Regions from separate parts of the Homo sapiens genome. Here region 2 is linked to region 1. Evidence: fine-mapped expression QTL. Tissue or cell type: whole blood. Region 1 holds a variant in brackets; the other region holds the start of a gene. All regions are shown on one strand. Distances are from middle to middle.

Region 1 (8,104 bases):
GGGAGAGGGATCGAAGACTCAGCCCAGTCACCAGTGGCCGATGACTTAATCGATGGTGCCTATATAATGAAACTTCAATAAAAACTTGAACAATGATGTCCAGGCTTCCTGGTTGGCGAACACATCAATGCACCTGGGAGGGTGGTGCCCCAGACACCACGGGGGCAGGACGAGTTCCTGTGCTCGTGATCTCTTCCTTAGTCCCTGTGTACTTCTTCATGTGGCTGCTCATTTGGATCCTTTACAACAGACTATAAGCATAAGCTTTCCCAAGTTCTGGGCATCATTCAAGCAAATTATCCTGCCTTGGGGAAGGGGGTCGTGGGAATCTCTGAATTTGTAGTCAGCCTACAAGCAGAAGGGCAGGTAGCTTGGTGACCTGTGTCTGGCATCTGAAGCGGAATTAATTTCACAGGACTGTAGCTGCAGGATCCGTGCTAACTCCAGGTAGTTAGTGTCAGAGCTAAATTGTAAGTCACCCAGCTGATGGTAGAGAATTGGAGAGGAGTTGGAAAATCACATACAAACAACCAAACAAACAAAAGGAGTTTTAAATGACTACCTATTGTTGTCATACATAGAAATCAGAGACATTAAGGAGAACATAGAAGGAAGACTTCCTGAATACCTCGAAAATGTGTGAAAAAACGGAGTTTCTGAATGGGAAGAAACATGTGGTTCCTCCATCTGGAGGCCTGTGCAGGCGAATGGGCTCTCTAGATTGTGTAAACAGGAAATCAAAGCCTCTTGCAACACAAGACCTATCTGTCATCACATTATGTTATAATGGAGAATTATAGATACAGTTCACCTCTGTCTACATACACAATGTTGTAACAGAGAATTATAGATACCATTCACTTCAGTAAGGAAACTACTCTTAGTTTCACCCATGAAGGAAGAGCGTTTGTCCCTGAACTGTTTTTTTGTTTGTGTGTTTGTTTTGCTGATGGGAACTTGAAGAGATCTATGATTTGCAGGAGTGGGACATTAACCTGATTTAACATAACTGCCTTCCCAGACTGGAACCCCACTGTTCCTCTATGCTGATACTCCTACCACCACCACCACCACCAATAAAAACAGAGTCTGTGACTGTGCTGAGCAGTGAGCACCGACCGCAAGGGCAGAAATTCAAGCTCTACTTTGTAAACCTGATGTTTTTCCTCTTTTGTCCCCCTGCCCCCAATGATTCTTTTTGTCCTTTTCTCTTTTGAACACTCTGAAACAATTTCAGTTGTGTTATGGAACCCAAGAGAATAGGATTCTAATTTCAAGTGGTATGGACCAGCCCTACAAGCTGAAAGGAGGAGTCAGAGTGGGAACCCAGGAGAAAGACACCACTGAGGAGGACGCGTCAGGGTGACATCAACGAGCAGCCACTCCATCCACCTGGAACACCTGCTTCCAGTGTTCTTCCCTACTGAAACTGTGAAGGGGTTTTGTTTTTAGCAGAAGGCTGTCCCTTACAATAGCTAACAACAATCCATAATGAAGATCTTCTACTTAGGAAACACTTCGCAGCTTATCATTCTAAATGGAAAGAAACAGAATAAAAGTTCCCTTGTAACAAAGTGTCACTTCTTACCTTGGATTTCAAATTCATCAACCTCATCAGCAGAGCCAGAGTCAGAGAGCTGTGCCGAATCACGTGAGCTGAACTGGGAGCTGCTGGAGGTGACCCGAAAGCCTGTTATGTTTAAAAACAAAAAGGAATAAACAGGGCAGAAAGAGGTCTTCTTGTCCTTCCAGTGTCACAATATAAGGGATCTGATATGACCTCAACAGAGAGAAATGGAAACTTTCCCTTTAGAAAGTTTCAAGTAAATAGAAGGTACTACTATCTGGGAAGCAAATCTGGGAGCAGTGTTCTTAGGTCTCCTCATATCAGGAAGCTATTTGGGAAGGGAGCTATTCCTTTATTTATATATATACATATATATATTTAGAGCTGGGGTTTCACCATGTTGGCCAGGCAGGTCTCAAACTCCTGGCCTCAAGTGATCCACCCGCCTCGGCCTCCCAAAGTGCTGGGATTCCAGGCGTGAGCCACTCTGCCTGGCCTGGAAGGCAGGTATTTCTGATGCAGGAAACGGAGCGACTCTAGGATGAGTATTCCTAGCATGATAGAAAAAAAGTAGGACTACATAGAAACATCTGACAGCAGAGGAACCACTGGTTTGGGCACCAGGCCTTATGCTGAAGTTGGGAAAATGTGGGAACAGAAGCATCCACAGGCTCCACTGACTTCCGTGCTCAGCCTCCTGGTACATGGGGAGCAGGTTCTTGGTGCGGATTTGCTGGCGCCGAAGGCGGATCTTCTGCTTCAGCTCCTGGATCTCTCTATCACTGTCTTCCTCTTCCACTTCCTCCTCCTCTAGGCACTGGCTCATCATGTTGCACTTCATTAGCTCGATGGCAGCAATTAAGGACTCTGAGATGCTGAAGTGGGCATTCTCCTGGCGGAAGGAGAGCACCAAACAGGCAAAGGGTTAGAAGTATTGAATGACATACTCATTATAATGTGGAAAAGGGAGTTTCCAAGATAGGAACTGTTCCTGCCAAAAACACCCTGGAGAAATGGACATTTCTACTACGAGGAAAGCTGATGGCTGGAAAACCTATTCTAGGTTTTCTTCACTCTCTTACTTTGCCAAGCCTGTCCCTTCCTGTCTCATTTCTACATAAAAATATGATAGAGAAGAGGCCCAGGATTTCAATCAGGTTCTTTCCCAAAATCATACACCTGTACACAAAATATTAAGATAAATGCTATGTCTCAAGATAAAAGTGCTTTGTAGTCTATAAAATGCTACACAGATGTCATTTATTGCTTATCTGAGCCTTAGAACAAAAGATAGAATTTGATTCTGGAAACAGTATTTACCTAAGGTGCCAGAGTCAAGGGAACCGCAATCATGCAGCAAAAACAATGCTGCCAGACGCAGCGGCTCACACCTGTGAATCCCAGCACTCTGGGAGGCCAAGCCCAGGAGTTCAAGACCCCAGACGCAGCGGCTCACACCTGTGAATCCCAGCACTCTGGGAGGCCAAGCCCAGGAGTTCAAGACCCCAGACGCAGCGGCTCACACCTGTGAATCCCAGCACTCTGGGAGGCCAAGCCCAGGAGTTCAAGACCCCAGACGCAGTGGCTCACACCTGTGAATCCCAGCACTCTGGGAGGCCAAGCCAAGGAGTTCAAGACCCCAGACACATGGGCTCACACCTGTTAATCCCAGCACTTAGGGAGGCCAAGCCCAGGAGTTCAAGACCAGCTTGGGCAACACAGGGAGACCTCCCCCATCTCTACAAAAAAATAAAAAAAATAGCCAGGTGTGGTGGTGCATGTTTGTAGTCCCAGCTACTCGGGAGGCTGAGGCGGGAGGATTGCTCGAGCCCAGGAATTTGAGGCTGTAGTGAGCCATGACCGTGACACTGCACTCCAGCTTAGGTGACAGAGCAAGACTCTTGTCTCAAAAAAACAAAAACACACACACAAACTTGATGCTTCTCTGCCCAGGTTGGCTTCTAAGATAAAATCGCTAATAATTTGGACTCAGTGAGGGGCACATGCTCCCTGCAGAGTTCCTCAGAAACAGAACTTGCTGAGCTTCCCTTTACCGTGAACTTATCTTTACTGTAATCTATACCCAAAACCTCATCAGAACAAATGGCACCACAGACCTTCAGACCCAATCTCCCAACTCATGAGCTCTTCATGAGGCCCTCGATTTCCCACCTTTTCCAGGTCGGCACAGCTGCCGAAGTCTTGCTCAGAGAGGTAGCTGATGAGGGACTGTCCTTCTGATGGTCTTCGGAACATGCCTTCCCCTGAGCACAGGTACCGACCACCTTCTGTGGGAAATGGAATGTGGATGAAACAGCCAGGCTTCTTCAGGAAGTCTTAAGCTTTTGTCATTAAAGATGCTCCCAAGTCTTCCCAGGTAACTGGGAATTAGAGGTTGGAAGAAGATGTCCACCTTCTAAAAGAATTTCTTGCACTTTGGGAGGGCAAGGCAGGCGGATCACAAGGTCAGGAGTTTGAGACCAGCCTGGCCAACATGGTGAAACCCCATCTCTACTAAAAATACAAAAATTAGCTGGGCATGGTGGCACATGCCTGTAATCCCAGCTACTCAGGAGGCTGAGGCAGGAGAATCATCTGAACCTGGGAGGCGGAGGTTGCAGTGAGCCAAGATCGCACCACTGCACTCCAGCCTGGGCAACAAGAGCAAAACTCTGTCTCAAAAAAAAAAAAACAAAACAAAAAAGAATTTCTTGGACTCTTAGAATCCCAGAGCACTAAGCCTCTTGGTTGGAAAACGGTAGAATAAACAGAGAGAATCCTTCTGCCATCTAAAATTAAAGAGAACATGCTCTCCCTCGTACCATACAGTAAAGAAAAAACAAAATAAAAATGTAGAACTTTGGGCTGGGAGGCAGAAAAGGACACAAATGGCTTCCTCCTCTGCATGATTTCCACATAGAGTCTGTCTGCTGGTTACTAAGCCCAGATACTCCAAGGCCTCTTTTCAAGGTCCATCTCATCCACTCAGAGAGCCATCCCATCTGGACCAGCCGACGTACCCGGTGCGAACACCCAGCACGTAAGAGAGGGTGGGACCCCCAAGTCAGAGAGAAGCAAGAGAAATGGCAGAGCAGTGTGATTTCTAGCACGGGGGTTAAAAATGACAAAAGAGTGACTGAGACTGTAACAGTGTGTACCCTCCAGAGAGCTGAGATGAACCCCAAAACTCAGAACTTAGCAGGCACAAGGGGTGAGCAGAGAAAATATACAATTTTAGCCCTGGCCTTCCTAGTACTCACCATATTCCATGTACAGAGAGCTGGGTGTGCTGACTTCACTGCTTTGACCAGAGTAGGGCAAAG[G/C]GCCTCTCAACTTCGCCTTATCATTGCAGGATTCTAATGACGATGACCACCAGCGAGTAAAAACACATACGAAATGAGCAACAGGTACATTCCCAACTCTGGAGTTTCAACACTTAACTGCACCCCTTCCCAAAGCCCTCCCAAGCAGGAGAGAGGCGGCACACCAACGGAACAGCCCAAGGGTACAGAAACACAGGGAGGGAAGGAGATGGCAGGTCAGTACATTCTAAGTGGAAAAGAAGAAACGTGATCCAGAATGGGGCAACATAAAGGAAAGAATCAAATCAAAATGGATTCATGGAATTTGCTTCTCTTTCCTTACATCTTTTAACCAAACATTACAGGAATATCAGCTGATTCCTATCCTCTTGACAAACCAATTTAGAAAAGTCTTTAGATGGTAAAACAAAGACAAGTGCATTGAAACTTTTCTGACATCTTGACATTAGGTTTTAAAGTAACATCAGAAGATTTACATTCACTAAGGAAATAAAATTCAGCAGCATCCTAAAAAGAAGCATCAAGGCAGTGCTGGAGAAGCCCAGGGAGAGGGCCCTGTAAGCAAAGGGCTCCGTTACGGGGCTCGGCCCGGCCTTACTGAAGAAGGGAGGGAGGGAAGGCTGGCGAGACAGACAATGCCTGGGACAGGAAGAGCGAGAGCTGGGAGGGAGAACAGTAGCAGGCAGGGTTTGCAGGAATGAGAAACTGATATTCTTCACAAGGAAACACAACATTTCCAGGACCACAGAAGGAAGAACAGGTGGAAAAGCAGGTGGGTGCTTGAAAATGAGCAGGATGCTGTGGGAGAGTGAATGACTGAGCTGCATCTAACCCATTTCCCTGACAGATGTTACCAACTTGCTCCTCTCACAAAAAATGCTACTCTGTGCAAGAGACAATTTTGTGTTCTTCTTGGGCCTCAAAGACTTCTGGTAGCCCTGGCTGTGGGCTCTGTTCCTTCCTACTGAACTGAGGACAAACTAGTAGTCGCCACGATGCCTTGGTAAAAAACCATGATATGACTTGGAAGGGACCTTCAAGATTCCCAAACAGCACACAACACAAACTCCAACACGACCTTAACCTCTTTACAACATGTGGCCATTCAGCCTTTACTTACTGAGTTCACTACCTCCTAATGCCACCATTTAACTAATTCTTAGAATTCCCTTACACTCGTTATCTGCCTTCTTCCAATTTCTTATCTCCTTAAGAAGAACGCTATTCTAAATGATGGTCCTACAGACTTTATTCCTCTTTAACCATCTGTTTTCCAAGCTAACATACCCAATGGCCTCACCCACTTCCAGGAGGCCACGGCTTTCAGCCCTCTCTCAATACTCTGCCTTGCAGACACATTCCAGTGTTCATGTCCATGAATTATGGTACCCAGGATGGAACACAAATCTCAGTTTGAACACCACCATGAACACCAAGGAAACAGACTGAAATAACTAGAAGAATCCTATGCAATAGCTGGAATGGGGTGCAGGGATTTATAGGGAAATGAAAACAGGTGAAAGAAAAAGGAAACGGAACTGCAGGAGAGGGAAAAAAAACAAAAAAACAAAAAACAAAAAAACCAAACATGCAAGTATATCTAAGACCACAGAAAGGGGATAAAATACATTCTGGTGTTAATTCAAGGAAAATAAAGTAATCCATAGGAAGTATTCAGTTATAAGAAAAATTCTGGGCCAGGTGTGGTGGATCACGCCTGTAATCCCAGCACTCGGGAGGCCAAGACAGGAGGATCACTTGAAGCCAGGAGTTCAAGACCAACCTGGGCAATGCGGTGAAACCCTGTCTCTACAAAAAAAAAAAAAAAAAAAAAGTAAAAAAAATTTAAAAAAAGAAAAAAAAGTCTGCTACTGATTCATCATGATGCCTCAGACAAATAGCAGGCCTCAGTTTCACCTTTGGGCAAAACTGAATTGATAAGTCTTGACTCTGCCTCCCAGAAGCTGTTGAGAGACTGAACGAGGCATTTGGAATTGTGTATAGAAAACACATCATATGAAATACTGGTATCATTTTATAGACAGTTCCAAGCATCACAACAAGACCAGGCTAGCCAGACTTGATTTGACACCAGACTGAAGGAGGTTCTGAACTAAGAAAGGTGGTCACAAAACAGAACAAAGAGGAGGTGGAGGACCGATTCCCAAACCTGCAATGGGATCTTCAACTATAATGGTGATATTCCTGGGGCCTCCTGCCGGTAGACAGACAGGTGCAGAGGAGAGTCCAGATAGAGCAATGAGAATACAGAGAGAGAAAAAAAGTGTCCTAAATTTTACCCAGCAGAAGTGGGGATGGAACTCCCAAGAGGAAACCCCAGTTGTGAAGGACGGATGGCTTGTCCAAGAAGCTGTGCGTGACCCATATTTCCTCAGATCCTTCCGCACACATTTTCGCGGGCTCCCTTTTTCCAAGGCAGGATTCCACTGGAATCCATATGGATTCAAGAATGGGGCGGGAAAGTTTTACATGCTCAAAGGCCAGTGGCTTGGAGTATGGCAGACATCAGGCCTGCAGCAGGAGATGTGAAGTGAGGGTCCAGCCCAGTCATCTTCACATCTAAGAAAGCTCATGGGAAGACAGGCTTTGATTTGGAGATTCTTCTCCTCAAGATTTCCAACAAGTTAAATCACATTCTTGAGGGAAAACAAAGACAAAAGTTTGTAATTCTGAAGGTTTCAGATGAGGGCCTTAGCTCTCACCTTTCCAGAAATTACAAAGAGAAAGCAACGCTATCTCCAGTTGCTAAAGAAACCGCCCCCTCTTTTTTTTAGGTCCTTGAATTTTTCACATTTTATTTTTATATTTTATTTCTGGGGCTTTCCTGACCCAGAATGGCTTTGAGCACAAAGCTCCATGCTATACTTCCTCTTATGGAGATCCTACTACAAACAAAACCCAACCAAAGCCTGCCGGATACCACAAGCCGGGAAGGATGATGGCAGGGAGATGGCAAAAGCAAGGAGCCCCACCTTCCCCACGAGTAGGCTGCCCCTGCTATCAGCTGGTGTTTGGTGAGGGAGGTCCCAGCTGCCAGGGCCTCCTTATCTGACGGCCTCTCACCCTGAATCAGTGATGCGGCCGTCAGCCCCACCGACTCAGTTGCTGGATCGCATCACCCTGCACTCACTATAGCCTTCGTTTTAATTAGAAACCCCAGTATCTCTCTGCCTCTCTCACATTGGTATTATTA
Region 2 (8,104 bases), 41 kb after region 1:
TTTGCAGTAACCCAGTCACAAAGCCTCAATTAATAGGCACAAGGAATGTGTATTTACCAGTTGTGTATCTGGAGCTAAGGAGGCCATCAGTACCATGAAGCCTCATTAAACAACGCATTCTGAATTAATCAGCCGCCAACACAGTATGCCTATAACAATGACGGGAGTGACTTTGTGAGGATAACCCCACTACTAAAATTAAGTTTTGATTAAAGTTTTTTGGTTAAGAGGCAATCATAAAAAGAATAAAAGACGGGAAAAGATTCTGCAAAGGAGCTATCCTACTGGCCTGAATGACAGGCACAGAATGCTGTGAAATTTATTCACTATCTTATACTTCCGTTGTTACTATTAGCATAGTGAGAGGCAGCATAGGGTGAGTATTAAAAGTACAGACTCGGGCCGGGCACGGTGGTTCACGCTTGTAATCCCAGCACTTTGGGAGGCGGAGGCTGGTAGATCCTCTGAGGTCAGGAGTTTGAGACCAGCCTGGCCAACATGGCGAAACCCCGTCTCTACTAAAAATACAAAAAATTAGCTGGGCGTGGTGGCGGGCACCTGTAATCCCAGCTACTTGGGAGGCTGAGGCAGGAGAATTGTTTGAACCTGGGAGGCAGAGGTTGTAGTGAAGCAAGACGGTGCCACTGCACTCCAGCCTTGGCGACAGAGCAAGACTCTATCTCAAAAAAAAAAAAAAAAAAGTGCAGTCTCTTGGGCCGGCATGGTCGCTCATGCCTGTAACCTCAGCACTTTTGAGAGGCCGAGGCTGGAGAATATCTTGAGCCCAGGAGTTTGAGACCAGCCTAGGCAACATAGTGAGACCCTGTCTAAAAAAAGAAAAAAAAAAAAAAGCGCAGACTCTGGTGCCGAACTGCCTGGGTTTGAATCCAGTTCTGCCAGGGATTCGCTGTACAACCTTGGCAAGTTACTTACCCTGTCCATTTCTCAGCTTTCTCATCTGTGACACAGCAATAACAGTAGTACCGACCACATACAATAGTTATAGGGATTAAAGAAGTTAACGCAGTATTCATATCTTAATACCTTAAAACAATTCCTGGCATGTGGTAAATAGCATTTGTTACATACATTAAAAAAATAACTAACCCAGCCTCCCTCACATGAAGTGGTAGAGGGAAATCAAAACAATCCTAAAACGTGTTTAGAATTTACATGGGACCTTTCACACGAAGCACGTCACAGACATCTGCAGGAAGAATAAATAGTCAAATAGGCAAAGCAGAAACTGAAACATGGAAAAGGGAAGTAAGATGTTCAGTTTCACTTAGCACAAATCATTCTCAGATCTCAGGCAGGAGCCCCAAAGTCCTGTCAGTCCAGGTTTTGTTCAACAGGCCACTTTGCACATAAAAGTAGAGTCACCCTTAAAAATAGCAAGTCTTCACCCAGGAACATCTCATAAATCTTCCCTTGTTGATATTTTCTCAGAGGTAAATATTCTGCTTCTAGTTTTTGGATCCCAGCTGCTCCTGAGACCATCATTATATCTGAAACTGTTTCTAAATGTCAAGTGAGGTCAGGCCTGGTGGCTCACACCTGTTAATTCCAGCACTTTGGGAGGCCGACGTGGCGGGGGAGAATTGCTTGAGCCCAGGAGTTAGAGACCAGCCTGGGCAATATGGTGAGACCCTGTCTCTACAAAAAAGTTTTTTAAAGTAGCCAGATGTGGTAGCTGGCACCTATATCCCCAGCTACTTGGGAAGCTGAGCTAGTATAATCGCTTGAGCCCAAGAGTTGGAGGCTGCAGTGAGCCGTGTTCACGGCACTGCGCTCAGCCTGGGGGACAGGGTGAGGCTGTGTCTCAAAAAATAAAATAAAAATAAAATAATAAATGTCAAGTATGACTCCCTTAAGCCACATTCCTGCTCTCGCCTGTCAGCATTCCAGCCTCTTTAAAAAAGATTAAGACCAGAGTTATTAATGAAGCAAACCCTAAATATGGAAGGCATCTCTACAGACTCCGATTCATCATTTAGTCAAAGTAGTTCGGGGTTTCTTTGGCTTTTTGTTTTTTGAAGACAGGGTCTTCCTCTGTCACCCAGGCTGGAGTGTAGTGGTGCGATCTCGGCTCAATGCAGCCTCGACTTATTGGACTCAAGTGATCCTCTCGCCTCAGCCTCCCGAGTAGCTGGCACCACAGGTGAGCACCACCACGCCGAGCTAATTTTTGTATTTTTGTAGAGACGGGGATCTCCCTAGGTTACCCAGGCTGGTCTCAAACTCCTGGACTCAAGCGACCCGCCTCAGCCTCCCCCAAGGTGCTGGAATTACAGGTGTGAGGCACCGCACCCGGTCCAAAGTAGTTTTTATATTTTAAATCCCCCAATTTCTAGAAGATATGAGCTTTCTGACATGGTTCCATATAAATAAATGTGAACTTGCTTAGTTTGCATTGTGAGGAAAAAGGGACAGGTTTGAAGACGAAAAGGAAATGGCACAGAGGTCCTGCCACTCTCTGACAGGGATTCGGCAATGACAAAGTGCAGAGTTTCTGGTCTCATTAGCAGTCCCCGCCCCACCGCACTGCCATGACACTCGCTCACTTTCTCCCCAGGCTCTCCTCGCCTTCATCCCCATGCTCATCTCTGCCTAAGCTTCTTCCGAGGCCACTCATAACGCTTCACCTCTGCTCCCAGGAATTCTCACATCCTCTTCGCGTTGGCCCCACTTGCTGTCACGGCAAGTTTCAGTCCGGGTGGTGCCCTGCCCCTGTCTATAGACTCTGGCCTGTAAAACCTCACTGCACCCCTCTGGCCTCTTCGCCCAGTCTCTCAGCTGCCACCTCCTCTCCAGCAGTCTTGGATCTGAGCTTCACCCTCCTCTGCTGCCCTTGCCCTCCGCAAATCCCACCCACCCTCCTCACCCTAAGCCGGTTCCTTCGTCCCATCCCCGCCCCGCCCGTCCTTCCTCTGCGAAATGCTTCCCAAACAAGTCCTCCGCAGCCGTCGTCCTCAAGACTCGTCGCGCCCGGCCCTTCTCTCCGTGACCCCGCGCCCTCCCAAGCCTCCCGGGGCTCCGGCGCCTGTCGCTGCCCCGACTCCGCGGCGGCTCCCAGCCCACCTGCTCTCCTCAGGCAGGCGCTCCTCGCCGCCTCCGAGCTCCATTCCCGCGCCCTCCGGCCGCATCCGGGGCGGTGAGGCCGCCTCTTCGCCCAAGAGAGGCGTCCCTGCCGCTTCGCCCTTCAGGGCTCCCGGGGCCCCCTGGGGCCGGAGGAGGCACCTGCGGCCGGTGGGCTCCGGGTGATGCGCTACACCCGGGCGGCGACAGCGGGAGGGACCGCCGCCTGGGCTGCGGCTTCTATCCCGGCCACCCCCACTTCCGGCTCCGGGGACTACAGCCCCCGGCGAGCACTCCGAGGCTAGGCCGCTCCCGCAGGACGCGTCCTCCAATCCCAGGCCGCGCTCGCAGACCGCGCCCCTCCAACGGCAGGCCGCTCCCGCAAGCCGCGCCCTCCAATCCCAGGCCGCTCCCGCAGGCCGCGCCCTCCAATCCCAGGCCGCGCTCGTGGATTACTACGCACCCGGTGGTTGGCTGGGCCGGCTTGCAAGCGGCGGGGGACCTTGGTCTCAGGAATCCGTGCCGGGGCGTATCCTTATTCACCCCCGTGACATTACACGCTGGGGACCGAACTCAGTCCGAGATGTAGACTAGGCAATAACGCTAATCTAATCCCGGTACGATTAACCCCACTCAGCCCGCCCTGGCTTAATGTCCGCTGGTGGTGTTTGGAGACCTCGAGCATTTAAATGAAGCGCTCACAAACAAGAGCACAGGTTGCTTTGGGATCATAAAAGAGCAGGAGAGAAAGGCTTCTGGGGGCTCTCGGAAGATGGATGTCAACGCAGAGTTTTCAAGGCTGAGTACGGGTTAGCCAGGAGAAAGAAGAGAAGGTGGAGAGAGCAACACGGCAGATACAAGGAAGGAAGTGCTGGCTTGGGAACTGCAGGTGCTGGGTAGCCAGAGCTGGGAAGGAGTGAGCAGCAGCATGGTGTGGGCATTCTGGTGTGGGGAAACCAGATCATGAAATGCCATTTTAAGGAGTTTGGATTTTATCCTGAAAACAATCAGCAAATCAAGCATATGCAAATCAAGAAGTGATTTGATCGAATCTGATGAGAAAGCCACTTTTGACAATGTGGACAGGAGATGGGGCAGATATAATACTATATTGAGGTAACGGTGGAAGGCTAGATAGGAGACTGGTCATCCTTATGGGGGATAACCAAGTAATGCTAAGAAGTGAAGCGAACCAGTTGAAAGAAACGTGGGCCTAGGGTTGCCAGATACTCTGGTTTCTCTTTTTTCTTTTTCAAAGACGGGGTCTCTCTCTGTCGCCCAGGCTGGGGTGCAGTGGCGCAATCATAGCTCCCTGCAGCCTGGAACTCCTGGGCTCAAGCAGTCCTCCTTCCTCAGCCTCCTGAATAGCTGGGACTACAGGTGCGAGCCACCACACCTAGCTATGATATTTTGATTTTTTAAAAGAAGCTAGGATCTGCATTTTTAAGCACTACTTCCAAATTTTTAAACGTTGGCAACAAATTTTTTAAACTTTCAACTTTGCACAGGCCAAACACAGCTTGTCTGTAGGCTGAAGGTGGCCCTTGAGTTGCTAGTTTGCAAACCCAGGCTTAAACTACAGCAGCGGTTGAAGAGAACAAGGAGGCTCAGATTACAGCAATGTGAAGGCAACAGAATCAGCACTACTCTATAAAGGACTGACTGTGGCAAGTGAGGGAGAAAGAGCGATCAAGAATAACTCCGTGAAAAACTAATGACTCTATATTAAAATAATATATGGCTTTTAGGTATTTTCAAACTTGACAAAAGTGTTTTGGCAATTAAAAATGAAATGAAAGAGCCTCTTGAAGCCATTTATGATTTCATTTAGGTTAAAAAAATACTCTCTTTCAAACTTTCTCATTTTCCTACTAAACGATTATACTTCTTTAAGAAAGGGGCAATATTACTCATTGGGATTTCTCTTCCTTCTGTGACTTTCTTCTCTTTTGGAGACGCAGTCTTGCTCTGTCACCCAGGCTGGGGTGCAGTAGCGCTGCCACAGTTCACTGCAGCCTCAACCTCCTCAAGCGGATCCTCTCACCTCAGCTTCCCAAGTAGCTGGGACCACAGGCAGTGCCACTATGCCCAGCTAATTTGTTTTTTTTTTTTTAATTTTTGGTAGAGACAGGGTCTCACTGTGCTGCCTAAGCTGGTCTCAAATTCCTGGGCTCAAGCAGTCCTCCTGCCTCAGTCACCCAAAAAGTATTGGGATTACAGGCATGAGGCACCATACCTGGCCTTACTTCTAGTTCTATAAATGTATGAACTTTATTTTTTGGCATACAGTATAATCCCAAATTAACACTATATTATTTATTTATTTATTTTTGAGACAGAGTTTCACTCTTGTTGGCTAGACTGGAGTGCAATGGCGCGATCGGGTTCAAGCGATTCTCCTGCCTCAGCCTCCTGAGCAGCTGGGATTACAGGCATCCGCCACCACGCCCGGCTAATTTTGTATTTTTTAGTAGGGACAAGGTTTCTCCATGTTGGTCAGGCCGGTCTTGAACTCCCGACCTCAGGTGATCCGCCGGCTTCGGCCTCCCAAAGTGCTGGGATTACAGGCGTACTAAAAAATACAAAAAAATTAGCCGGGCATGGTGGCAGACGCCTGTAATCCCAGCTACTCAGGAGGCTGAGGCAGGAGAATGGCTTGAACCCAGGAGGCAGGGCTTGCAGTGAGCCGAGATCGTGCTACTGCACTCCAGCCTGGGCGATAAGAGCAAGACTTCGTCTGAAAAAAGAAAAAAAAAAAAAGGCCGGGCGTGGTGGCTCATGCCTGTAATCCCAGCACTTTGGGAGGTCAAGGCGGGCAGATCACGAGGTCAGGAGATGGAGACTATCCTGGCTGACACGGTGAAACCCCGTCTCTACTAAAAATACAACAAAAAATTAGCCGGGCGTGGTGGCGGGCGCCTGTAGTCCCAGCTACTCCGGAGGCTGAGGCAGGAGAATGGCGTGATGAACCCGGGAGGCGGAGCTTGCAGTGAGCAGAGATCACGCCACTGCACTCCAGCCTGGAAGACAGAGCTAGACCTGGGCGACAGAGGGAGACTCCGTTTCAAAAAAAAAGGCAATCAGCTTTATCAGGAAATCCTAGGGGCCAGAAGCGGTGGCTCACGCCTGTAATCTCAACACTGGGAGGCCCAGGCAGGCGGGTCACTTGACACCAGGAGTTCGAAACCAGCCTGGCCAACATAGTGAAACTCTGTCTCTACTAAAAATACAAAGAAAAAATAGTCGGGTGTAGTGGCACACGCCTGTAATCCCAGCTACTTGGGTGGCTGAGGCATGAGAATCGTTTGAACCCGTGAGGTAGAGGTTGCAGTGAGCTGAGATTGTACCACTGCACTCCACCCTGGGTGACAGAGTGAGACTGTCTTGGGGAGAAAAAAAAGAAATCCAAAAACTAAAATTGTAGCAAAAAGGCTGGAAAACAGGCTTTTTCTCATATGTCCAAGTTCAAGTTACATGTACTGGATTTTCTTTAAAGCCATTAATAAACATGACAATAATCTGCACTAGCCATGCGTTACCTATCCCATCCCTCTACTTTCCCTCATAATCCTGAACCCCTTCTTTTGTTTTTTTTTCTTTTGAGATGGAGTCTCGCTCTGTCACTCAGGCTGGATCATGGATCCACTGAAAATACAAAATACAAAAAATTAGCTGGGAATGGTGGCAGACGCCTGTAATCCCAGCTACTCGGGAGGCTGAGCCAGGAGAATCTCTTTAACCTGGGAGGCGGAGGTTGCAGTGAGCTGAGGTCATGCCATTGCACTCCATCCTGGGCAACAAGGCAAGACTCCATCTTAAAAAAAAAGAAAAAGAAAAAGAAATTTTGTAGTATAATTGGCAAAATTTGAACATGAACCATAATTGGATAATAGTACAGCATCAATGTTAAATTTTCTAAACTTGGTAATTTTAGCATGGTTATGTTAAGGAATATCCCTAGAAATATATTCTCTTTCTTTTTTTTTTGAGACAGAGTCTTGCTGTGTTGCCCAGGCTGGAGTGCAGTGGCACAATCTCAGCTCACTGCAACCTGTGCCTCCTGGGTTCAAGCAATTCTCCTGCCTCAGCCTCCCGAGTAGCTGGGATTACAGGTGCCCAACACCACGCCCAGTTAGTTTTTATATTTTTAGTAGAGACGGGGTTTCATCATGTTGGCCAGGCTGGTCTCGAACTTCTGACCTCAAGTGACCTGCCCACCTCAGCCTCCCAAAGTGCTGGGATTACACGTGTGAGCCACTGCACACAGCCCTTAGAAATAGATTCTAAAGAGTCATAATTCCTGCAACTTTCTCTCAAATTGTCTAACAACAACTAATACCTCTATACAGAGAGAAAGCAAATGTGGCAAAACATTAATTGGCGAAGTAGAGGATATATGGGTATTCATTGCACTATTTTTGCAACTTTTCTCTACATTTGCAAGTTTAAAAAATAGTCAAGGTTCTGCTTTCATGGGGACCTAAAAAAATAGTCAATGATCTTAGTATGGTTTTGTTTTCTTATGACTGTATCCTGCTAAATATAACAAAAATTTTAGTGTTTCACATGGAAATTTTTAATCTTGTAATGATTAACTTTAAAGACAGTTTAAAATTAATTTATGTTTTCCCCATAGGTAGCATTTCTAAAAGTCTTTTAAGCCAATTTTGCCAAATGACCAATTCACTGACTTTACCAAATTTACTGATTTACCAAAATTCTTTTTCTGTTAGGCATATATAAAGCTTATAGTAGTTCATCTGATGAGATGATTTTAAAAGCTTTTGAAGAATTTTGCCAAGTTTTAATTACTTAGCTTTTATTCTGTCTTTATAGCAACATTTCCATCCCCTCTAAGCACTTAGTAGTGGTTCATTTATTCAATTATATAGGAACTGGCTGGGCACAGTGGCTCATGCCTGTAATCCCAGCACCTTGGGAGGCCGAGGTGGGAGGATCACTTGAGGTCAGGAGTTCAAGAACAGCCTGGCTAACATGGTGAAATCCTGTCTCTACTAAAAATTCG

What was found. PIP is the estimated chance that this variant, and not a neighbour inherited with it, causes the effect.
Region 2: it holds the start of RUBCN, and the variant in region 1 is fine-mapped to the expression of RUBCN in whole blood (TOPMed, PIP above 0.99).

Annotation. Positions count from the first base shown.
Region 1 is chr3:197,692,127-197,700,230 of GRCh38, forward strand. It overlaps RUBCN (rubicon autophagy regulator), which reads right to left. Exons shown (of 20, transcript NM_014687.4): 8 at 4,828-4,923; 9 at 3,740-3,855; 10 at 2,249-2,459; 11 at 1,589-1,690. Among named protein-coding and RNA genes, the nearest start is that of MIR922, 22 kb to the left of the region's middle. The variant G/C (reference allele first, on the strand shown) is at 4,891.
Region 2 is chr3:197,733,574-197,741,677 of GRCh38, forward strand. It overlaps RUBCN (rubicon autophagy regulator), which reads right to left and starts at 3,331. Exons shown (of 20, transcript NM_014687.4): 1 at 3,082-3,331. The coding sequence starts at 3,146. RefSeq lists enhancers at 1,629-1,678, 2,609-3,456 and silencers at 3,045-3,594, 5,954-6,086.